Homo sapiens: one gene and its partners. The main gene of each other region encodes a partner of the protein of the gene in region 4 in a complex. Each region holds a gene or a part of one and is shown on either strand. Other genes may lie near its edges. The genes, in order: SNRPG, SNRPD3, PRPF6 and USP39.

Region 1 (2,916 bases), about 15 Mb from region 4:
TCTGCTCTTTACTACCTTATCATACTCATTGCTGATAATTGGCTGCCAGGTTCCAAGACACTTATCCTACCAATTGTGTTCCCTTCTATTCTGTCAGCTGCAGTAATCACATGTGAGTTCTTTTATTCATATTTACCAGGTTATTGAGCCCTCTGTGTGCCTGCTACTATTTTAGGCACTGGGGTTTTGCACCTAAGTCCCTGCCCTCATAAAATTTACATTTGTATGGAGAACACAATAAATCATAGCGTATGTGTAAATAAAACAAGCATGATACTGTGAGAAAAGAATAAGTTACAACTACTTTTACTCTAGCTGCCTATAAGCATAGCTCCACTTTGAATCTTTTTGGAATGCCTCCATTTCTAATAAACACCTCAAATTATTACATTACCTTTCTCTCCCCTACATTACCTATTCTTTCCCTCCCGTACCCCTCCATTCACCTATCCAATTCTACTTGACTGATGGGTGATCTATCGATTATGATGATCTCCAGTCTATTAGGGACTTACTGTTTTTAGTCCCCTAGCCTTCCAGTTTCGCTTATTTTTCTACCCCTCTTGAATTCATTTACCAGCTGATTCATCTATACTCTGATAAGTTTGTCTGTTGGTTTGTTTTGGTTTTGGTTTGTTGTTTTTTTTTTTTTTTTTTTTTTTTTTTTGACAAAAGACAGTTTCGCTCGTTGCCCAGGCTGGAGTGCAGTGGCGCTATCTTGGCTTACCGCAACCTCCGCCTCCCGGGTTCAAGTGATTTCTCCTGCCTCAGCCTCCTGAGTAGCTGGGATTACAGGCATGTGCCACCACACCCGGCTAATTTTTTATTTTTAGTAGAGATGGGGGTTTCTCCATGTTGGCCAGGATGGTCTCGAACTCCCAACCTCAGGTGATCCACCCGCCTTGGCCTCCCAAAGTGCTGGGATTATAGGCGTGAGCCACCACACCCCCGATAAATATTCTTATCTTCATTTATGGCTTATCTACTAGGTCAAGCACTGTTCTCCTAGGGCCTTTTTTTTATAACTTCTCTTTCTGCCTCTAGGTTCTGTCCTATTCAAACTTCGGCGTATTTATATAATATCTTGTTGCAGGGACACTTATGGTTGTCATTCCCCCAAGTGAAACTCTCACTGGCTCATTGTTAGTTTCTGATGTCCTCCAAACACTAAGATTGGCATTTGAAGCTTTCCAAGATTGAATGCCAACTATCTTTGTTTCCTGATTCTCTTCGTGAACTTTTTACTGCATTCAAATTAGATTACTTCCTTATCCTCTCATACTTTGTCTTCATCTTAGTTCTGTCTAGAATTTCCTACAATCTCCTTTTCAAAATTCTGCCCAATTTCCAAGACCCAGGTAAAATGTCATTTTCATAAAGCATGCCTTTCACAATTTCCCATCCTGGTTTCTTCCCTAAATGATCTCATACCTCCAAACTGTACCTAACATACTCTACTGTACATATTTTACTCATTAATTTTTGGATCCCATAGAGTCAGGGATGGGCATTTAAATTTGAGTCCTGCATTTTAGAAGGTGAAATTAGGGCCAGGCGTAGTAGCTCACGCCTGTAATCCCAGCACTTTGTGAGGCTGAGGCAAGCAGATTACTTGAGGTCAGGAGTTTGACACCAGCCTGGCCAACATGGTGAAACCCCGTCTCTACCAAAAATATAAAAATTAGCTGGGCGTGGTCAGGGCTCCTGTAATCCTAGCTACTTGGGAGGCTGAAGCAGGATTGCTTGAACCTGGGTGGCAGAGGCTGCAGTGAGCCGAGATTGCGCCACTACACTCTAGCCTGGGCAACAGAGTGAGACTGTCTCAAAAAAAAAGGTGAAATTAGTCATTGGAGACTTGGCATTAGAATCTCATAAAGCAAATTGTTAGCCTTAAATCCAAAAGATGTCTGTCGTATAAAGGGCTTAGAGTTGTTTGGTGTCCCTGTGGCTTGAACAAAGCTTTGCAAACCGACATGTAATATTAAAAAACCATTAATGATTTGGTGAAAATTCTTAAATCATCATAGTTATGTCTGTTACCTGAGTTGTTCTTTTCAAATTTATTTTTCTCTTTCTTAGGTAATACGAGGAAATAGTATCATCATGTTAGAAGCCTTGGAACGAGTATAAATAATGGCTGTTCAGCAGAGAAACCCATGTCCTCTCTCCATAGGGCCTGTTTTACTATGATGTAAAAATTAGGTCATGTACATTTTCATATTAGACTTTTTGTTAAATAAACTTTTGTAATAGTCAAAAATGCTTTCTCAGATGTTCTGAATATAGAATATCAGCTCTCATTCCAGTTTTTTCTAACATGAATTTTCCTGGTTGACATTGATTTCAAAGGGTTTTATGCATTAAAGTGAAAGAATCTTATTAAATGTGAAACATGGCAAGGATTCCTTCTGTCCATCATCTTTCAACACTGAACAGATAAAGAAGTTACAAACATGAGTGAGTTTCTTCTAAAACACTAATTTTCAAAACTTGTAAGAATAGTAACTTTGATCTAGCCTGACTTTCCCAAGTACATCTACATTCCAAATATAGTACAACAGAAGCAAAAGACAAGAAGTAATGATGTAGTTGTTTATTTTGAATATAATCATGAAGTGGGGAAAAATTTTAATACAAGAGTAGAAAGAGGATTCCAGAGAAAAACATTCCAGTGTATCATGGTTCTTTGTGAGTGAGTAGAGAGGGGTAGTGAGGATGCTGTCCACAATGTATTCATCTAGTTAATGAATTGTATGGCCCACAAGCTCAAACGAGAGATACATTACAGATGGTTGTATTATAAACCTAATCTTAAGAAACCTTACCAAGCAAATGCTTAAAGACTGATTTTTTTGTGATCTGATAAAAAGCCTGCAAATCGTGAATCACTTTTAAACTGTACAGAATGGACTACAC
Region 2 (7,037 bases), on a different chromosome or scaffold from region 4:
GTCAGTCAGATTCAGGTGAGCCTGAGTTGTATCCAGTTTCTGTCTTGGGTAGTCTGACCATAAACCTGGCGTTCATTTGTGGCACTAGAGGTTATGGTATTCTTCAGGGGAAGAAAAGGATTGGTAAGGACTTGGGAACTGGATGAAAATTTAATAACAGGCTGGGAGTGAGGAGCCTGGAGCAGAAGGTTTATGAGAAACTGGAGCCCTGTTGCCCCTGAAGGTAGAACAGGGATAGTGGGTAGAAGCTCTAGAAACCATTCCTCTAGAAACTGCTCATATACAACAGGGGCGGCCCCAGAGCATAGTTTTGTTTGTTTTATTTTTGAGAGGATCTTGCTCTGTGGCCCAGGCTAGGGTGCAGTGGCTCCATCACAGCTCCCTGCAGCCTCGACCTCCCAGAACCAAGTGATCCTTTCACCTCAGCTTCCCGAGTAGCTGGACTACAGGCACATGCCACCACACCCAGCTAATTTTTGTAGAGATGAGGTCTCACTGTGTTGCCCAGGCTGGTCTCAAACTCCTGGGCTCAAGTGATCCTCCCACCTTGACCTCCCAAAGTGTTGATATTACAGACATGAGCCACCACACCTGGCCCATAGTTGTTCTTTTCTGAGTGTTCAAGCAGAGGCTGGGTGGCCAGTTAGCACTTGAGGAAAAGAATGAATGAGTATAAGATGGCAGCTAGCCAGACAGAAATCTGCAGAGACAGCACATCTTTCTACAATAAGGGCTGACCCATTCTAAATAAATTATAGTTCTCTCTCTTCAGAAGGTTCATACAATAAGCTGCTTTTTCTGTAAATGTGGTGCTTGTTGAGGTTGATGCTGGCAGATTGGTATCACCCTCCCATGCCAAGCTGGTCTCACCTTCAGGCTCCCCATTTGTCCATCCTGCAGTCTATCCTTGTTGCCACATTTATCTTTCCTGAGTGCTGCCTTAACCCTATTGATCTTTCCTCTATCGACAAACTTGACTGACTCCTTTATCTGAAGTAACGACCCCGTCCAGTGTCATTATTCGACTGCTCTGGTCCTCACATCCTGTAGGCTCCTGCCCAAGTGCCTGCTCTTTTCCTTGTGCAAGCTCTTGCCTCATAACCCTCCAGTAATTTCAGGCCCTTTTTACAGGCCTTGTGGTACCACCTCCATTTCTCAGTCCCTAGTCACTCAACCTAGAGGGTTCTGTCTCACCTTCTAGAGTATGCACTCTGGAGGGTCAGAACCACATCTGGTATATACTTGTGACCTTCATGGTGCCTTTGAAATCTGAGTGCCAGGCAGTGCAGGGGAAGACAGTTTGGACCAGCAGTTTGAAGCTGTTTTCGTTAGGGTTTAGCACCTTCAAGAGCTCTTCACATCTTTGCTCAGCAGGCAGTGCAGCACAGCCAGGGCTCTGAAGCTAGGCCAGCTGGTTCGAATCTGGAGTTCCCTGCATTCCAGCTGTTTGACCTGGGATAACTGCTTTGGTTTTTTTAACATGTAAAGATGGGAGCACTCGGCTGGGCGCAGTGGCTCACACCTGTAATCCCAACACTTTGGGAGGCTGAAGCGGGCAGATCACCTGAGGTCAGGAGTTCGAGACCAGCCTGTCCAACCTGGTGAAACCCCACCTCTACTAAAAATACAAAATTAGCCGGGCATGGTGGCGCATGCCTGTAATCCCAGCTACTCAGGAGGCTGAGGCAGGAGAATCGCTTGAACCCGGGAGGCAGAGGTCACGGTTAGCCGAGATTGCACCATTGCACTTCAGCCTGGGCAACAAGAGTGAAACTCCATCTCAAAAAAAAAAGGGGGGGAGCACTCATACCCACGCTGAAGGTGTTGTGAGGACTGTTTAGGTAAAGTGCTCAGTGCAGTCCCTGGTGTACACAGTTAGTACCGATGATTGCTGGGTAATTCACCAGCTTTGTCACAATGTCAGTCTGCTTTTCTGGACTTCCCCCTCCCACCAGTCAAGGCCCTCCCCACCGCTGGTGCTGTTGACCGTTAACTTATTAGCTGGTGATTTCCTTCCAGATGTCCAACATCACAGTCACATACAGAGATGGCCGAGTGGCACAGCTGGAGCAGGTATACATCCGTGGCAGCAAAATCCGCTTTCTGATTTTGCCTGACATGCTGAAGAACGCACCCATGTTAAAGAGCATGAAAAATAAAAACCAAGGCTCAGGGGCTGGCCGAGGAAAAGCTGCTATTCTCAAGGCCCAAGGTAGGTGCTTTTCATGCACAGGTTTTAAAATATAGGTTTGTCTTGTGTCTTGTAGAAAGGGGCCCTATTACTGCCTGGAGACAGAGAGGGTTTGACCTCTGCTCTCTCCACACCCACCACCCACTGCCACCCCTTCCCCTTGCAGCGTGGAGTGATCCTGTGAGGCCATTATTTTATTTTTTTGAGACAGAGTCTCGCTTTGTCACCCAGGCTGGAGTGCGATGGTGTGATCTCAGCTCACTGCAACCTCTGCCTCCCAGGTTCAAGCAATTCTCCTGCCTCAGCCTTTCAAGTAGCTGAGATTACAGTGCGCACTGCCCTGCCTAGCTAATTTTTTTATTTTTAATTTATTTTTATTTTTATTTTATTTTTAATTTTTTTTAATTTTTTTATTTTTTTGAGATGGAGTCTCGCTCTGTCGCCCAGGCTGGAGTGCAGTGGCGTGATCTCGGCTCACTGCAACCTCCGCCTCCCGGGTTCAAGCAGTTCTCTGCCTCAGACTCCTAAGTAGCTGGGATTACAGGCACCCGCCACTGCGCCGGGCTACTTTTTGTATTTTTAGTAGAAACGGGGTTTCACCACCTTGGCTAGGCTGGTCTTGAACTCATGACCTTGTGATCCACCTGCCTCAGCCTCCCAAAGTGCTGGGATTACAGGCGTGAGCCACTGCGCCCGGCTTATTTTTATTTTATTTATTTATTTTTGTATTTTTAGTAGAGATGGGATTTCACCATGTTGGTCAGGCTGGTCTTGAAGTCCTGACCTCACATGATCCACCTGCCTCGGCCCCCTGAAATGCTGGGATTACCAGTGTGAGCCACCGCACCTGGAGAGGCCCATCTTTTCTAGAAGTTCTGTGTGAGAGGTGTGGGATCGCTTGCCCTTGTCTAGTTTGCCGAGCAGACACAGCCCGGAGCAGATGAGCTGACTCGAGTGTGAGGGCAGCATTTCCTAGCGAGACTGGGTCTTATGGATGGACACCAGCATGTACTTAGGGAGGTCTGATAGTGGAGCTCCGTTTTCAGAAATAAAGCCACCTTTTAGTACATTCCAAAAGTGGGACTGTCCTTTTCGCAGTCCCCTAGTCTGGTCTTGCTTCTTGGTTAGCCTAATTTGGTTTTATATTTAGGTTCATGAAAGTTCTGTCATGTTGATTAGACAACAAAGTAATTGTGGCCCTTGGAAACTGTCTTAGTGTTGGTAAAAAAGGTTTGCAGCCAAGGAAGGCACTGGATTCTTCATTGGTATCTTTAGCTGCTGTACATGTTTTATATGTGTGTGAGGAAAAAAGTCAAACTGTGTTTTTCCTCTGCTCTCACAACACAACAATCAACAAAGACTTCTGTGACCAAGCAAGCAGTCAGTTCTGCAGTAGACACCAGCTGGGTGTCCTTCAGTTCTGACACTATCTACCTGGAGATAGCCTGAAAAACCACAGGTTGAGGGCTCGGTCCCACAAGACAGCCCCTGCACCCCCCACTATTATTCATAAGCACAGGCCTCCAGAACATCTGAATGGCTTCAAGCCAGGGTTCTCACGTCTCACTCCTTGGGTTCGATTAATTTGCTGGAGTAGCTCACACAACTCGGGAATCACATACTTAAATTTACTGGTTTATAACAGGATATTTTATAGGCTACAAATAAACAGCCACATGAAGAGATGCATAGGGTGAGATCTGGAAGGGTCGCAAGCACAAGAGCTTCTAGCCCCATGGAGTTTCCTCCCGGCACATGGATGAGTTCTTGTTCACCTTCCTGTCAGGCTGCGCATGATCAGCTGTCCCGAAGCTCCCCTAACCCTGCCCTCTTGGGCCTTTTATGGAGACTTTATTGGATAGTCATGATTAAAGGATGGACAACCATGTGGAAATGCCATTAGACAAAATGGGTGTGATCTAACACTAATAGACGGGGTTGGGAAACCCCGCGAGGCCTGTCCAGATTCTTTTTGGCCTCTCTCTGCAGCATTTGTTCCTCCAGGGTATAGGGCAGGACCTTTCTCTGGAGTGAGGTCTTATGACCCACAATCAGATTAGGGTCCTGCCTTGGGCAGGTGAAAGGAGGGCAGGAGAAGTTTCAAGAGAGAGATTCTGTCTCCTGAGTCCTGCTTCTGAGGCCTAAAGTGCCCCAATGTTATAACAAAAGACTATAACAAGGACTATAGGAGTTACGAGCTGGGAACCATAGATGAAAGCTCAAGTTTAAAGATGTAATAGTGTGAGGGGCCGGGCGCAGTGGCCCATGCCTGTAATCCTAGCACTTTGGGAGGCCGAGGTGGGCAGATCACGAGGTCAGGAGTTCGAGACCAGCCTGGCCAACACAGTGAAACCCCGTCTCTACTAAAAATACAAAAATTAGCTGGGCATGGTGGCAGGTCCCTGTAGTCCCAGCTACTCGGGAGGCTGAGGCAGGAGAATCGCTTGAACCCAGGAGGTGGAGGTTGCAGTGAGCCGAAATCGTGCCACTGCACTCCAGCCTAGGTGACAGAGCTAGACTCCATCTCAAAAAAAAAGAATATTTTATTTGTTCTTCAAAGCCTGTCTTCTCCTAGAACCCCTGGGTTACAGAGGAGAACAGCAGTCTTATCATGCTATTTATATGGAGTGTGTTTTCTTTTTGCTACTATGAAATAATTCTTTTTTTTTTTTTTTTTTTTTGGAGACTGAGTCTCCATCACCCAGGCTGCAGTGCGGTGGCTTGATCTCAGCTCACTGCCACCTCCTCCAACTCCCAGGTTCAAGTGATTCTCTTGCCTCAGCCTCCCAAGTAACTGGGATTACAGGCGCATACCACCACGTGCAGCTAATTTTTGTGTGTTCAGTAGAGAAGGGGTTTTGCCATGTTGGCCAGTCTGGTCTCAAACTTATGACCTCAAGTGATCTGCCTGCCTTGGACTCGCAAAGCCCTGGGGTTACAGACATGAGCCACTGCACCCAGCCTGAAATAATTATTTTCTCAGAAAAAAATACAAAAGATAATATAACCCTTCTCCCAGATCTAACACATGTTAACACTTAACTATATTTGTTTCAGAATTGAAAAAATTAATTCAGTGCATCTATAATGTTTTTCAGCTCACCCAAGGCCAGCCCCAAGGATTTGTCTTTTCTGTAGCTCTCAGACCACCTTCTTTGCCCTCAGCATGCTGCCTCCCAGCCTCTTGTAGAGAGCAGTGTGGGACTGGAAGGCAAGAGTGTGCTGCTAGCTCCTGCTTTGATGCCAGTCCCCAGCCCCTGCCCCTCCGTCTCCATCCCCCCTGTTAAATGCAGTGGCTGTCAGCTGGACGTGTTGGCTTATGCTTGTAATCCTGACACTTTGGGAGGCCGAGGTGGGTGGATCACCTGAGGTCAGGAGTTTAAGACCAGCCTGGCCAACATGGTGAAACCCTGTCTCTACTAAAAATACAGGAAATTAGCCGGGCGTTGTGGTTCACGGCTGTAGTCCCAGCTACTCAAGTAGGAGGCTGAGACATGAGAATCGCCTAATCCCAGGAGGTGGAGATTGCAGTGAGCCGAGATCATGCCACTGCACTCCAGCCTGGGTGACAGAGTGGGACTCCGTCTCAAAAAATAAAAAAAAAAAAAGGCGGGAGGTGGAAATGCAATGGCCAGGGTGGTGTTGGACCAGGTAACCCTTCAGAACCCTTCTAACTGGTGTCCTAGGGCCCTGGCTACTCTGTGCTATGAGCATTCACCGACCACACTGACCTGGCCTCATATTTTCTCTTCCCTTTCAGTGGCCGCAAGAGGAAGAGGACGTGGAATGGGACGTGGAAACATCTTTCAAAAGCGAAGATAATTTTCTAAGTTGAACAGAACTTTGTCCTTTTTTCTTTCAGGTTATCTGAGTTCATTGGAGTGGGTGCTTGTGCATATATGCTAGGTATCTTTTGCCATCTTTCTCTTTAGATCAGGGGAAATGTTTAAGCTAAATAAATCTGGGGGGTTTTTTGTTCTGTTTTGTTTTGTTTTCTTTGAGAAAATAAGGACTTTGTGTTCATTTGAAGTTTGCTTTGGCTAAATTTTGACACCCTGGGGGATGTCCTGGGAGAATGCCAGTACTTTGAAATAGCACAGCTATTGATGAGATTTTAAGCTGCTGTTCCTGGCCAGTTGCAGGTTAAGCCCCAGAAAAGTTCACCTTGGAGAAGCTCCGAGAACACACAGATTGTGTCTCATTCATCTTCAGACACAGGCACATAGTGTGGCACTTTGTTCAGTTAACATTTGTGGAGCTGTCATCAGCTCAGCTTTAACAACACAGGTGACTCTTTCCCTTGATAAAGTCATAGGTAATTCAGGGGCTGGGTGCGGCGGCTCACGCATGTAATCCCAGCACTTTGGGAGGCCAAGGCGGGCGGATCACGAGGTCAGGAGTTCGAGACCAGCCTGGCCAATATGGTGAAACCTCGTGTGTACTAAAAATAAAAAAATTAGCCGGGTGCGGTGGCATGTACCTGTAGTCCCAGCTACTCGGGAGGCTGAGGCAGAAGATTCGCTTGAACCCAGGAGGTGGACATTGCAGTGAGCAGAGATCATGCCACTGTACTCCAGCTTGGGTGACAGAGCGAGACTGCACCTCAAAAAAAAAAAAGTAATTCAGGGGATCCTAGTGGCCAGCTTCCTTGGCTCGTATACTGGCTACAACAAGTAGTTTTGTGGTGATTTGTGGAAACAGATTCTTGGGAGCATATCAGAGCATCTCAGCATTGATTGGCACATCCATAGTTGTTAATGTAGGAAGGGTGACCAGCAGCTCAGCACAGTGGCTTGCTTCCAGCACTCTGGGAGGCTGAGGTAGAGGATTGTTTGAGAGGAGTTCA
Region 3 (7,037 bases), on a different chromosome or scaffold from region 4:
GCCCCACGCCTGGCTTGGGTGGTGATGGGAGTGAGATGACGGCAGGCAAACGAGACCACAGCACACTCATCTTTGTGATGTGACTAAAACATTCATGTGGCCGGGCGTGGTGGCCGGGCGCGGTGGCTCACGCCTGTAATCTCAGCACTTTGGGAGGCCAAGGCGGACAGATCACCTGAGGGTGGGAGTTTGAGACCAGCCTGACCAACATGGAGAAACCCCGTCTCTACTAAAAATACAAAATTAGCCGGGCGTGGTGGTGCGTGCCTGTAATCCCAGCTGCTCGGGAGGCTGAGGCAGGAGAATCGCTTGAACCCCGGGGGTGGAGGTTGCGGTGAGCTGAGATCGCGCCACTGCACTCCAGCCTGGGCAGCAAGAGGGAAACTGTCTCAGCAACAACAACAACAACAAACATGTTCATACGGCCGGGTGTGGTGGCTCACGCCTGTAATCCCAGCACTTTGGGAGGCCAAGGCAGGTAGATTGTGAGATCAGGAGTTCGACACCAGCCTGACCAACTCTGCTAAAAATACAAAATTAGCTGGGTGTGGTGGCTTGCACCTGTAGTTCCAGCTACTTGGGAGGCTGAGGCAGGAGAATGGTGTGAACCCAGCAGGTGGAGCTTGCAGTGAGCCGAGATCGTGCCACTGCACTCCAGCCTGGGTGACAGAGCGAGACTCTATCTCAAAAAAAAACAAAACAAAACAAAAACATATATTTATCCCCACCTTTTGTGTACACAAACAGGCTATGAAAAGCTTACAAAAGTACACACAGTACTGCAGGTAACAGTGTTGAGGATGAGTGTACCATGAAGCACGTACCCTGGAGCTGATGCCCTGCGTGACAGTGCATGTCTGCCCCACAGGTGTTCATGAAGTCTGTGAAGCTGGAGTGGGTGCAAGACAACATCAGGGCAGCCCAAGATCTGTGCGAGGAGGCCCTGCGGCACTATGAGGACTTCCCCAAGCTGTGGATGATGAAGGGGCAGATCGAGGAGCAGAAGGAGATGATGGAGAAGGCGCGGGAAGCCTATAACCAGGGGGTACGTCTCTGCCTGCACCCTGGGGCTGCAGCTGACCCGGCATTCACAAAACTGAGCCCCCTGGTGCAGGGTCATTGCCCTTCGCCTCTGAGGAGATGTGGAGGGCTGGGGGTTACAGCTGATGGAGCTGCAGACTCAGGACCCAAACCCTGGTCCCCTCGCTGAGTTCTGTGCTTTTCCTTATATGAAGCTGCACACACTGCTCAGAAGTGCAGAGTGTGGCACACCTGCAGTAAAGGCTGGTACGTACAGACCTGTGTGCACAGGTCCACAGCACCACCGCACACCTGTACACCCACAAATGCAGAGTGTGAGGGGTGTTTTTCCATGGACATGGCAGCCCTGAGGGACTCGGTCACCCACTGCAGATGAGAAGCTGGGCATGGCTGTGTCCCAGTTCTTCATAGACACCACCTGAGCTGCTCTCTTACTTGTTGGTTGCAGTTGAAGAAGTGTCCCCACTCCACACCCCTGTGGCTTTTGCTCTCTCGGCTGGAGGAGAAGATTGGGCAGCTTACTCGAGCACGGGCCATTTTGGAAAAGTCTCGTCTGAAGAACCCAAAGAACCCTGGGCTGTGGTGAGTCCTGGAGGGGGCAGCCTGGCCTCTGGGCACAGCTTCCCCATCAGGTGGGCCGCCGTCACCCAGCTGCTTGTGTGGAGTCACTCGTGCAGTGCTTCCAGGCTCAGGGGCTTGGGGGGCGGTAGGTGCTGGCCATGAAAAATCACGGTCCCTGCCTTAGGAGAGTTCGGCCTAGGTACTGTGACAGGCCTGTAGATGGTTTGATGCAGTTTAATTTGTGTTCTGATGGAGGGCGCCTGGGAGAGGGAGGGGTTAATGATGGCTGGGACGAGGGAAGGATGGACCCCGGAGAGCCAGCTCCACAGAGGAGGTGGCGTGGAGAGCCCTGGAGGTGGACAGGAGCCTGCTAGGTGCAGGCTCTGTTCATGGAGGTGCTGCGTCCAGCTCAGGGTGACGGGGCTGGAGCACTGTGCAGGCACTGCCGCAGACAGGCAGCTTCTGGGTGCCTTGTGCGGCCCTGGCTCTCCCAGTCTGGTCTTGTTTGTTCTGGATGCCTTCACCTGCATCTGGACAGCGTCAGGATCTGAGGTCTTGCCTTGGGGCGGTTGCCAGTGGGGCTGGCAGGGATGTGGGCCCCAGCGCCTTGTTTCTGTGGTGGATGAGCTCTGCTGTGGAGGGAATGGAGTTTTTGCTGCTGTGACTGGGTGGAGAGCCCTTTCAGACAAGGCTTCCCAGAAGCTACCAGAATATGTGCTGTTGGTAGACGGCTGTGGGACCTCCGGGGGCCTGTCTCCTCAGGTTGGAGTCCGTGCGGCTGGAGTACCGTGCGGGGCTGAAGAACATCGCAAATACACTCATGGCCAAGGCGCTGCAGGAGTGCCCCAACTCCGGTAAGGGGGTGCCCCGACTCCGGTAAGGGGGTGCCCTGACTCCGGTAAGGGGGTGCCTTGACTCCGGTAAGGGGGTGCTTCCTGGCTTCCCAGACTCCGCAGGGCTGGCACTTCCTGAGGGAGTGGGGGCTCAGGCTTCAGACGGACTTTATTAAAATGTGTAGTTTGTGTGAATCATTTCAGTCAAAAGTTTCAGCTATACTCGGCCGTTAAGACAACTTAATGAAATTCTTGGCCTCAAAATGGGAGAATTTGATTTCATTTCTGAAGTGTTATCATTTCTTTTTCTTTTAAAATTTAAAAGAAATTGGCCAGGTGTGGTGGCTCATGCCTGTAATCTCAGCACTTTGAGAGACTGAGGCGGGAGGATTGCTTGAGTCCAGGAGTCCATTGCTTGAGACCAGCCTGGCCAACATGGTGAAACCCCGTCTCTACTAAAATACAAAAATGAGCTGGGCATGGTGGCGGGCGCCTGTAATCCCAGCTACTCGGGAGGCTGAGGCAGGAGAATTGCTTGAGCCCGGGAGTGGGAGGTTGCAGTGAGCTGAGATTGCGCCATTGCACTCCACCCTGAATGACAGAGTGAGACTCTGCAGGGTGTCCAGTCTGTGCCCTCAGGGCTGCCATGGTTTTGGGTGGGCCAGAGTGCTCATCCTTTGTGGTTCTCCTTGCACAAGTTCTGCGAGCCGTGTGTGGGAGGCCCCTGTCGTGGTCTGAGGACGTCCCGGGTTAGAATCTGTAGGCTGGGCACCTTTCCGGAACCAGAGGCTGGAGTGCAAATCTTTGTTCTTTGTTTCTGAATTATAGGTATCCTGTGGTCTGAGGCCATCTTCCTCGAGGCAAGGCCCCAGAGGAGGACCAAGAGCGTGGATGCCCTGAAGAAGTGTGAGCATGACCCCCATGTGCTCCTGGCCGTGGCCAAGTGAGTGGGGCCCCCACAGGATTGCTGAACCTCGGGGTCCTAATGGGCTCTTTTTCCAGAGTCTGTCTGCCTCTTCCTGGTCATTGTAAAGATGCCCGGCAGCAGGGTGGGCTTCCCCGATCCTCGGCTGCCGTCGCTCCTGCTGTGGTCTGGGGCAGGCGCCTCTCCTGGCAGACACACCTGAGGGTGCCGTGGTCAGAGACTCACTGGGGACGCATGTGATTCACACTGGTGCGCTGGCCGCCGGGTCACAGACTCACTGGGGACGCGTGTGATTCACACTGGTGCGCTGGCCGCCAGGTCAGAGACTCACCGGGGACGCATGTGATTCACACTGGTGCTCTGGTCGCCGGGTCAGAGACTCACTGGGGACGCATGTGATTCACACTGGTGCGCTGGCCGCCGGGTCAGAGACTCACTGGGGACACATGTGATTCACACTGGTGTGCTGGCCGCCGGGTCAGAGACTCACTGGGGACGCGTGTGATTCACACTGGTGCGCTGGCCGCTGGGTCAGAGACTCACTGGGGACGTGACTCTGGAACCTTGCAGGCAGCAGCGGGTAGCCATGGGGCAGAGCATGCAGACTCTAGGCACATGTGGGCAAAGACCCGCCAGGTGTGGGGCACAGCAGGGAGCTCAGGGCCATCCCCGACCCCCAGGGTCCCTGTTTCCTTCTAGAAAGAGGATGACAGTCTGGGAAGGAGCTGGGCCTGAGTGTGGGTCAGGAGGCTGGGAAGTGACCATGTGGGGTGAAGGGAGTTCTTGGAAGAACCCTGGGTTCCTGAGGCTGCAGCTCAGGACGTGGGCTCACCTGGCAGAGGTGGCGTGTCTGGCCCCAGGAGCTCTCCTGTGTCCGGCTTCCCCTCCACCTGCCCCGCCATGGGTCATGCAGAGACAACAGCCTTCCTAGTGCTGGCTTTTGATTCTCTCCATCCCTTCTCCCCAGCACTGGGTGGCAGTGGTGCTTGGTCTCCAGAGGTCTGGGTGCCGCCCCCACAGGCTTGCCTGTAGGGGCACCTCCTCTCCCCTGCCCGCAGGCCCCCGACAGATGAGAGAGGCTCCCCACAGGGAGGCTTGTGTCTGCCTGGTGCTACCTTGGTCCTGCCCTGTGCGTTCACCTCCCAGAGTGACTTCTGGGTGACACTCTGATAGTGCAGCCATAAAACCTTATAAAAGGCTTTGCTAAAGTAAATAAGTCACTCCTTGCTATTCCCAAGCCAGTGTTTTGTGTGTCTGCTATCTGGGTTTGTGCTCTTTAAATCACAGTTTATCTAACACCGGGCAATTAAGAATACCACAAGGCTTAAAAAACAATCAGGTTATCAGAGTGTGAAATTATTCCGTTTGGCAACTGAGACGAACCCGAACAGCTGCCCGGAGTGGAGGCTCCTCGTGTTGTCTCTTGACTACGGTGCCTCTGGCTCCAGGGGGAGGTGACCCTGAGGAGAGGGTGGCAGCAACGCAGAGTCCCGGGCCTGCCAGCATGCTCAGCAGCCAGCGCCCGCCATCCCTTCTCCAGCAGCGGGTGGGGGTGCCATGCACACCCTTACCTGGCCTCTCATAGCATGGACCTCTTCGGGCCCGGTTTTTCAGGTGTGCATGTGTCTGGCAGGCACGGCGGTGTGAATCCAGTGGCCTGAGGGCTGTGGGCTGCAGGCCCAGGCCCTTGTGCTGCCTGGAGCCCATCTTCTCAGTGTTCACTGGGGTTGCTGCTGGAGGCCGGGTGGGGCAGGATGATCCAGCAGGTGTCTCAGTGAGGAGCTGAAACTGTATAACTTTCCCTCATCAAAGTTGCAGTTTAATTTTGTGTCAGGTTTAGTTTCATCTCCTTGTATCTGACCCTAATTTTACGGAGTTGGAAGATCTTTCCCTGCGTGTGAATTTTTTAAGAAACAGTTTGGGACAGGTGCGGTGGCTCATGCCTATAATCCCAGCACTGGGAGGCTGAGGCAGGTGGATCATGAGGTCAGGAGTTTGAGACCACCCTGACCAACACAGTGAAACCCCATCTCTACTAAAAATACAAAAATTAGCCGGGTGTGGTGGCGCATGCCTGTAATCCCAGCTACTCAGGAGGCTGAGGCAGGAGAATCGCTTGAACCTGGGAGGCAGAGCTTGCAGTGAGTCGAGATCGCGCCACTGCACTCCAGCCTGGGCGACAGAGCGAGACTCCTTCTCAAAAAAAAAAAAAAAAAAACAACAAAAAAAAACCAATTTGGTTAGACCCGTGAAGGGCAGCTTCAAGTTAATGATCTGGGGTAATTATTTCTGGATCAGCCGAGGCCCTGATCCTCAGGCCTTCTTGAGGGGAGCACCAGGGCTGCGGGTCAGGGATGAAGCTGATGGCCCTGAAGCCGTTCCCCTGCCCCAGAATACCGTCCTGCAGCCACTCACTCTGGGTTCACGTCCTTCTGCTGGAACAGGCTGTTTTGGAGTCAGCGGAAGATCACCAAGGCCAGGGAGTGGTTCCACCGCACTGTGAAGATTGACTCGGACCTGGGGGATGCCTGGGCCTTCTTCTACAAGTTTGAGCTGCAGCATGGCACTGAGGTGAGGCCCCTCGACAGACCGCCGCTCAGTGCCTTCTGGGACTGTGGCGGGGAGTTCCGCCAGCCCTGGGGGCTCTAGGAGGTGGCCACGGCCAGCGTGACTCTGCCCGGGGTCGGGAGGATGGACCGGGTGTGTGGGGCACAGAATCCTCGACACCTCCCCACAAGGCAGTCTCTGCCTCCACATCCGTTTTCTGGTTATAGCCTCACAGCTCCACACCCTGGAATTGAGGCACCCTGTCCGTTAGGGTGGCCTGTCTGCTGGAGTATTTTAACGAGTTATTTGCTGGCTGGAGCCTGGGCTCACTTTAGGAATGGGAATGGAGTTGGCCTTTTTCTTGGGCCTGAGCCTGAGTGTGGCTTTCTAGGACAGCCTGGGCAGCAGCCCCTCTGCTCCCACCCGCCCCGCTAGAGCCAAGCGTTGTCTGAGCTGTGCTGGAGGCAGTCAGGCTGTCCTGGTCCTCCCTGGAAAGTGTTGCCAGCCCACGTGAACCCTAACTCCTTGTTTGGAGAAGGCAGACGTGAGCACTTGTGTGAGGCACAGACATGGGGAGCCTGGCTCAGTTCCTCATCTGTGGGCTGAGGCTGGTGGGGTCCATGCTCCTCAGGAGGTGGGGCTCCTTTGAGGAACACACCTGAAAGAGCCTTGCCTTCCGGTGCAGGGCCTGTGCCCTCTGGCCCGCCAGTTGGGGTTGGTGCTGCCAGGGCCAGGTCTGCAGGGGCCAGGCGAGAAGCAGGCGAGGTCCGGGGAGTAGCGTGGGAGGACCCCTGCCTGACGTGCCCTGTGGTCCCCCCAGGAGCAGCAGGAGGAGGTGAGGAAGCGCTGTGAGAGTGCAGAGCCTCGGCATGGGGAGCTGTGGTGCGCCGTGTCCAAGGACATCGCCAACTGGCAGAAGAAGATCGGGGACATCCTTAGGCTGGTGGCCGGCCGCATCAAGAACACCTTCTGATTGAGCGGTTGCCATGGCCGGTCTCCGTGGGGCAGGGTTGGGCCGCATGTGGAAGGGCTCTGAGCTGTGTCCTCCTTCATTAAAAGTTTTTATGTCTCGTGTCAGAACAGGCAGCCTGCTGGTTTTCTCTGGGGCCCTTCTCTGGCTCCTGCTTCTG
Region 4 (7,037 bases):
CCTCTTGTACTTCTCATATATCCTGTTTTCAGCTTTCTGCCTGCCTCTGGGGTAGTATAGAGAAAGGAAGGTCATTTAGGAGAGGAGAAACTCCAAAAAGTGGGGAGACATACTTTTTTTTTTTTTTTGAGATGGAGTCTCACTCTGTTGCCTAGGCTGGAGTGCAGTGGTGTGATCTCAGCTCACTGCAACCTCCACCTCCCGGGTTCAAGCGATTCTTCTGCCTCAGCCTCCCGAGTAGCTGGGACTACAGGTACATGCCACCATGCCCAGCTAATGTTTGTATTTTTAGTAGAGATGCGGTTTCACCCTGTTGGCCAGGCTGGTCTCGATCTCCTGGCCTCAAGTGATCTGCCTGCCTCAGCCTCTCAAAGTGTTGGGATTACAGGCATGAGCCACCGTGCCTGGTTAGTTTTCTTTCTTTACATATATATATATATATTTTTTTTTTCTTTTTTTTTCTTTTTCCTTTTTAGTAGAGATGGGGTTTCACCATGTTGTCAAGGCTGGTCTCGAACTCCTGTGCTGAAATGATCCCCCTGCCTCGGCCTCCTACAGTGATAGGATTATAGGTGTGAGCCACCAGGCCCGGCCTTTTTTTTTTTTTTTTTTTTTAAATCAGCCTTAGCCAAACTGCACATCCTAAGCCTCATACATAATTTCTCGGACCAGGAGTCTTGTGAACTTAAGTGTGAGGCAAAATTATATTTTAAAAAATCGAAATGAAAAACTCATGCCCCTGCTCTAATACTACTGAACTTCAGCACTAATTTGAGAATTTTCTTTTCTTTCTCTAGGAATATAAGACTTACAAGGAGAACTTTCTGAAGCGCTTCCAGCTTACCAAGTTGCCTCCATATCTAATCTTTTGTATCAAGAGATTCACTAAGAACAACTTCTTTGTTGAGAAGAATCCAACTATTGTCAATTTCCCTATTACGTAAGTAACATCCTGCCTCACTTCTCTCACGGGGAGTGAACCTGGATTTCTTCTCTTGTATTTTTACCAGTATTAATTTTGGACTGTCTTAGTTGGGGATTACAAGGAACAGAGCCTACCTACAGTAGATAAGAGTTTTTATTGGAAGGATACACTTATTTCAGGGACCACAAAAGATTGATGTTTATTGGGATGCAATCCCTATTTTATCTTCTCTCCTGTTGCTAGCTGGAAATTATAGTCTTCCTGCGTAGAGAAGAAGAAATGATGCAAGTAGGATAAGACAGGTAGGATTCTGCCTGGTTTGGAAGATGTCCTGAGTAGTGAGGGTCTGCCCATCTATTTGCTGGCCATCACACCTTTTTGCACACTAGAGTTGTACTAGATGCTTTTAGTTTGCTTCCTTCCAACTCAGAAAACTTCTGCAAGATCCTTTTTGGGGGTAGACTGTTGGTTTTCAGTTCTCAAGAGACAAGGTTTTTCATACTTAAGAAGATGTTTGGCTGGGCGTGGTGGCTCACGCCTGTAATCCCAGCACTTTGGGAGGCCAAGGCAGCTGGATCGCTTGAGCTCAGGAGTTCAAGACCAGCCTAGGCAACATGGCAAAACCCCATCTCTACAAAAAAATACAAAAAATTAGCCAGATGTGGTGGTGCACACCTGCAGTCCTAGGTACTTGAGGGGCTGAGGCAGGAGGATGGCTAGAACCTTGGAGATTGAGGCTGCAGTGAGCTGAGATGGTGTCACTGCCCTCCAGCCTGGGTCTGGGTGACAGAGTGTGACTGTGCTAAAAAAAAAAAAAAAAAAAAAAGAAAGAAAGAAAGAAAATAGTGTCAGTTTTAAATTCCATGTAGTGTTTAAGAAAGTAGTATCTAAAATTAAGAGGCCTGAGTTTTAGGCTGTCTTAGTGGTGGGACCTCAGACCCATAGTTTGCGTGTTTTCTGGATATGTTCTCTCATAGATAAAATGAGAGGCTTGGAGTAGATGGGCCTGAGCCCTAGGGGTTTGTCCAGGTGTAACATCTTATTATAGTATTGCCAGGACTCTTAGAATCATGGAGGGTGAGGAGAGAGAACATTTGCAGTTGAGAATTACAGGGGAATTTCTTTTTCTCTTTTTCTACACTTTTCTCCACTAGCATCTTGTTTGTGACTAGAATTAAATGGGGGGACATGGAGGTTTGTTCTCTGCCTCCTTGAGTAGGATGACAGAGGTGCTTTCTTCGAAAGTCTGTGTGTCAAAGTTTTATTTCAGCACTAGCCTCTTGTGAATTGCCAGTCACCTGTCTGTTCCTGGTAGGTAGGGGCAGTCTGGATTCCAAGGGCAACTCCAGAGGGAGGAAGATTGTGTATCAATGGTACTTCCTGCTCAGTTGCCACAGAAATTTCCTTGCCCCATTGGTTTCTTTTATGGGCCTAGAGTAGGCCCAATATAAAAGTTTGTCCTTCAGAAAGCTTACTTCGGAGAAGTTGAGAAAAAGATTGTTTCTTAACTACGCAGTCTTTTAGAGAACATCAAATTGTGACTAATTCTGGAAACTTGCACTTTAATTATTTTATGTGCTGTAATTACTTCGAGTAATACAATTCTGGATCATTTCATTGTCCATACTTCTTGAAAAGGATCTTTTTCATACCTGTCTTCTCCTATGTTTTATTCATAACACATCCTGTTTTTGTCGGAGAGTTATCAGACTTATGGTGATTAGGCACCCTCTGCTTATTTGGAGATAGAGATTTTTGAGGGCAGGTTTAAAGTTTCACTTTCAGGTAATTAGCCATTCTCTTAACTGGTCTGTTGCTGTGGTTGGGAGATGAGTATAGTTTGCTCTTTTAGGCTGGGCGCAGTGGCTCACATCTGTAATGTCATCACTTTGGGAGGCCGAGGTGGGAGAATTGCTTGAGCTCAGGAGTTTGAGACCTGCCTGGACAACATAGCAAGACCTTGTCTCTACTAAAAAAAAAAAAAAAATGAATAGTTTGCTCCTTTTCCTATTTACTAACACAAAATGATTAAACGTAGTATTTCTCTTTTGCCGCATGGACAGTTTTGGTTCAGTCATGAAATCTTGAGTATAAAGACTTCTCCAAACCAGGCACGGTGGCTCACACCTGTAATCCCAGCCCTTTGGGAGGCCAAGGCGGGCGGATCACGAGGTCAGGAGATCGAGACCATCCTGGCTAACACGGTGAAACCCCGTCTCTACTAAAAATTCAAAAAATTAGCCAGGCATGGTGGTGGGCGCCTGTAGTCCCAGCTACTCGGGAGGCTGAGACAGGAGAATGGCGTGAACCCAGGAAGCAGAGCTTGCAGTGAATTGAGATAGCTAGCGCCATTGCACTCCAGTCTGGGCGACAGAGCGAGACTCTGTCTCAAAAAAAAAAAAGACTTCTTCACTGATACTCATTCAGACAAGTCTAGTCAGCTTTTGTTCAGGCTGAAGAGAAAATAAAATGAGAAGTCAGCCTTTAGTAGCAGGAAGGCAGGTTGGCTGACTAGAGCTCACATGGACTCAGGACTCATATCTCCTTTTTTTTTTTTTTTTGGAGATGGAGTCTCGCTCTGTTGCCCAGGCTGGAGTGCGGTGGCGTTATCTCGGCTCACTGCAACCTTCGCCTCCTGGGTTCAAGCAATTCTCCTGCCTCAGCCTCCGGAATAGGTGGGACTACAGGTGCACGCCGCCACGCCCAGCTAATTTTTTTTTTTGTACTTTAGTAAAGGCAGGGTTTCACGATGTTACCCAGGCTGGTTTCGAACTCCTGAGCTCAGGCAGTCTGCCCGCCTCGGCCTCCCAAAGTGTTGGGATTACAGGCATGAGCCACCGCACCTGGCTTCCATTTTCTTAACAGTGAATATTTATTGCAGTCTGACTGCATCATATATGGGACACTGTCAGTCTGTAGAAACAAATAGCTGTCACCAATACATAGAAAGCTACATATAATAATTACAACAAAGTTGTATGTTTGTTTATTACCACATGGTTTACATTTTAAACTCTGTAATTTTGAACAGTTAATATGTTCACAGTCTAACTTCAAAGGGAGATATATAACTGGACGTGACCACCATTAGCTGTTTCTTGTGAACTCTTCCAGTGATAACATGGTTTTGTTTCATGTAATGAGTGGTAGCACATCAGACAACTTTTATGATGCAATGTCTTTTTTTTTATTTTACCTTGTATTGTGTAAGTTTTTATAAATATTTGTAGACTCCAAAATGATATATTTTTCCTAAAATTATGTATTTAATCTTAATATTCTTGTTAACTGTCTATATATTTTCCTTTTTAACTATTTGAAAGTTCTTCTTCCTTTTGGGGGTTTTTTGAGACAGGGTCTCACTGTCGCCCAGGCTGGAGTGCAATAGTGTGGTCCTGGCTCACTTTAGCCGTAATCTCCTGGGCTCAAGTGATCCTCTCACCTCAGCCTCCTGAGTAGCTAGGACCACATGCATGTACCACCATGCCTGGCTAATTTTTTTTTTGTAGGGGTCTCACTACATTGCCCAGGCTGGCCTTGAACTCCTGGGCTCAAGCAGTCCTCCTACCTTGACCTCTCAAAGTGTTGGGATTATAGGTATGAGCCACTGCCTGTCATTCTTTTTTTTTTTTTTAAATCATATGGGAAGCTGTGTAACCCTGTCATTCATTTTGGCATATTTTGTGAATTCCAACGCACCTGGACCTTCTTGACTCTGCAAGCCTACCCAGAGAAAGGGTCCTAAAATAGGGCTGAACAATTTTGTGGTCCGTTTGTGTAGGACAGTTTCCTTAACCTCACAGCCTTTGTCTGATTATTCCGGCTTTATTTTAACCATTAACAGAAATGTGGATCTGAGAGAATACTTGTCTGAAGAAGTACAAGCAGTACACAAGAATACCACCTATGACCTCATTGCCAACATCGTGCATGACGGCAAGCCCTCCGAGGGCTCCTACCGGATCCACGTGCTTCATCATGTGAGTGGCTGCTGACCGTCTCATGGCACAGAGTGGCAAAAACAGGTGTTTCTTTGGCATCTCAGAGGGCAGCTCCCTTCAGTGTGTCCTTGCTTGGCCTTGGCTTTGGGACTCTGCAAGTAATAGTGCTGTCAGTAGTTAGTTTAAGGCAGTGGTTCTCAATTTTGGCTACACATTGGACTCACCTTGGGAGCTTTTTTTTTTTTTTTTTGAGACAGGGTCTCGCTCTGTAGCCCAGGCTGGAGTGCAGTGGCGTGATCTTGGCTCACTGCAACCTCCGCCTCCTGGGTTCAAGCAGTTCTCTGCCTCAGCCTCCCGAATAGCTGGGATTATGGGATTACAGGCGCCCATCACCACGCCCGGCTAATTTTTGTATTTTTAGTAGAGACGGGGTTTTACGATCTTGGCCAGGCCAGTCTTGAACTCCTGACCTTGTGATCCACCCACCTCGGCCTCCCAAAGTGTTGGGATTACAGGCGTGAGCCACCGCGCCAACCGGGAGCTTTTTAAAATCCCAATGCCTGGCACCACACCAGGCCGGTTATAATAGTAGTTTTCAGCTGGGGCAGAGGCCAGGGATGTTGGTATATATTTTACAACACGAAGGACAGCCCGTGTTACAAAGAATTATCTGACCCTAAACATCAGTCAGCATTAAGGTTAAAGGCTCTCTGTTAGATTGTCTGGAGGTGGATGTCTTTTCTGTTTGATGTCTTTTCTATTTTTCAAGTTAATTGAGATGGGGTTGTGCTATGATGCTCATGCTGGTCTCAAGCAATCCTCCCGCCTCAGCTTCTGAAACTGCTGGGATTACAGGTATGAGCCACCATGCCTGGCTGGCATTTGATGTTTTGAAGTTCCCTGAGAGACCCTGATATGCAGCCAAGGTTGAGAACCTCTGCCCTAGACTAGAGCCTTACCATCCAAAGTGGGATGCATCCTTGGACCAATAACATCAGCATCAGTCTTGTTAGAAATCAGCTTGTTAGAAATGCAGACTCTCAGTCCCCTCAAACCTACCACATCAGAACCTGGATTTTAACGTGACCCTCTGATTTGTAAGAAATTAAAGTTTGCGAAGCACTGGTTTAGAGGCTCCCTTTCATCTTAAAAATGTTGTGGATTTGTCTCAAGTTGAAAACAGATAAAACATGTACTTGAGATATATTTGATATCACATAGATTATTAGCATAAATTGTTCTCATTTGATTAGCCTCTTCTGGAACTGTGGGTTTAATCTTAACTAGCTTCTGTTTATCAAGTGCTTTATTGTGGTTAGGCAGTACGCCAGTTACTTAATGTACATTAATCTCATTTCTTTCATTAAAACACACCTCCAAGACAGATGTCAGTATCATCTTTTTTACAGAGGAGGAGACCTAGGCTCAGAGTTTCAGTAATTGACCTCAAGTCAGTAGAATTAGGATTTGACCCAGGTACTCTGCTTCAAAGCCCATGTTCTTAACTCGTCCTTGAAGCAGGAATGGGAACTTACTTATGTGATCCTGAGCTTTCCTTATGTTTCCTATATTCTCAACTATTGTAATATCCAGAGGATCTGGAATATTTATATTCTACAATAATGGTCTTTGGTATTTCTTAGAACTTTGGTTGGATAAGACAGGTGGGCGGCCAGAGGTGCCTCTGCCTTAATCTAGAAACATTTTTTCCTTGTTCATGGAAGCATGAAGTGAGATACGTTTTGCTGTATTTGTAGCACTGGTTTCTTAGGCCAAAGGAATCAGGTTAGTGTGATAGACAGTGTCCACCAAGGACACCTTTTCTTGATGACCTGTTGCTTTTTTTTTTTTTTTTTTTTTTAAGACAGAGTCTCACCCTATCACCCAGGATGGAATGCAGTGGCATGATCTTGGCTCACTGCAACCTCCACCTCCTGGGTTCAAGTGATTCTCCTGCCTCAGCCTCCCAAGTAGCTGGGACCTACAGGCACCTGCCACCAGGCCTGGCTAATTTTTGTATTTTTGGTAGAGACGGGGTTTTACTGTGTTGGCCAGGCTGGTCTCAAACTCCTTACCTCAAGTGATCTGCCCACCTCGGCCTCCCAAAATGCTGGGATTACAGGCGTAAGCCCCTGTGCCCAGCCAGGAATGTCCATATTTAGGTTCTCTCA

What was found.
Region 1: USP39 (region 4) and SNRPG share a complex: the UniProt entries of both Homo sapiens proteins name them as parts of the U4/U6-U5 tri-snRNP complex.
Region 2: USP39 (region 4) and SNRPD3 share a complex: the UniProt entries of both Homo sapiens proteins name them as parts of the U4/U6-U5 tri-snRNP complex.
Region 3: USP39 (region 4) and PRPF6 share a complex: the UniProt entries of both Homo sapiens proteins name them as parts of the U4/U6-U5 tri-snRNP complex.

What each region holds. Positions count from the first base shown.
Region 1 is NC_000002.12:70,280,848-70,283,763, reverse strand, and holds the end of SNRPG (small nuclear ribonucleoprotein G), read left to right. Parts: intron 1-2,079; coding exon 2,080-2,130; 3' UTR 2,131-2,402; downstream 2,403-2,916. UniProt on the Homo sapiens protein: Plays a role in pre-mRNA splicing as a core component of the spliceosomal U1, U2, U4 and U5 small nuclear ribonucleoproteins (snRNPs), the building blocks of the spliceosome.
Region 2 is NC_000022.11:24,565,965-24,573,001, forward strand, and holds part of SNRPD3 (small nuclear ribonucleoprotein Sm D3), read left to right. Parts: intron 1-2,019; coding exon 2,020-2,212; intron 2,213-5,951; coding exon 5,952-6,013; 3' UTR 6,014-7,037. UniProt on the Homo sapiens protein: Plays a role in pre-mRNA splicing as a core component of the spliceosomal U1, U2, U4 and U5 small nuclear ribonucleoproteins (snRNPs), the building blocks of the spliceosome.
Region 3 is NC_000020.11:64,026,114-64,033,150, forward strand, and holds the end of PRPF6 (pre-mRNA-processing factor 6), read left to right. Parts: intron 1-868; coding exon 869-1,045; intron 1,046-1,489; coding exon 1,490-1,623; intron 1,624-2,364; coding exon 2,365-2,456; intron 2,457-3,263; coding exon 3,264-3,378; exon of another isoform or gene 3,379-3,572; intron 3,573-3,678; exon of another isoform or gene 3,679-4,695; intron 4,696-5,804; coding exon 5,805-5,931; intron 5,932-6,727; coding exon 6,728-6,880; 3' UTR 6,881-6,987; downstream 6,988-7,037. UniProt on the Homo sapiens protein: Involved in pre-mRNA splicing as component of the U4/U6-U5 tri-snRNP complex, one of the building blocks of the spliceosome.
Region 4 is NC_000002.12:85,640,179-85,647,215, forward strand, and holds part of USP39 (ubiquitin carboxyl-terminal hydrolase 39), read left to right. Parts: intron 1-797; coding exon 798-940; intron 941-4,769; coding exon 4,770-4,905; intron 4,906-5,635; coding exon of another isoform or gene 5,636-5,704; exon of another isoform or gene 5,705-5,721; intron 5,722-7,037.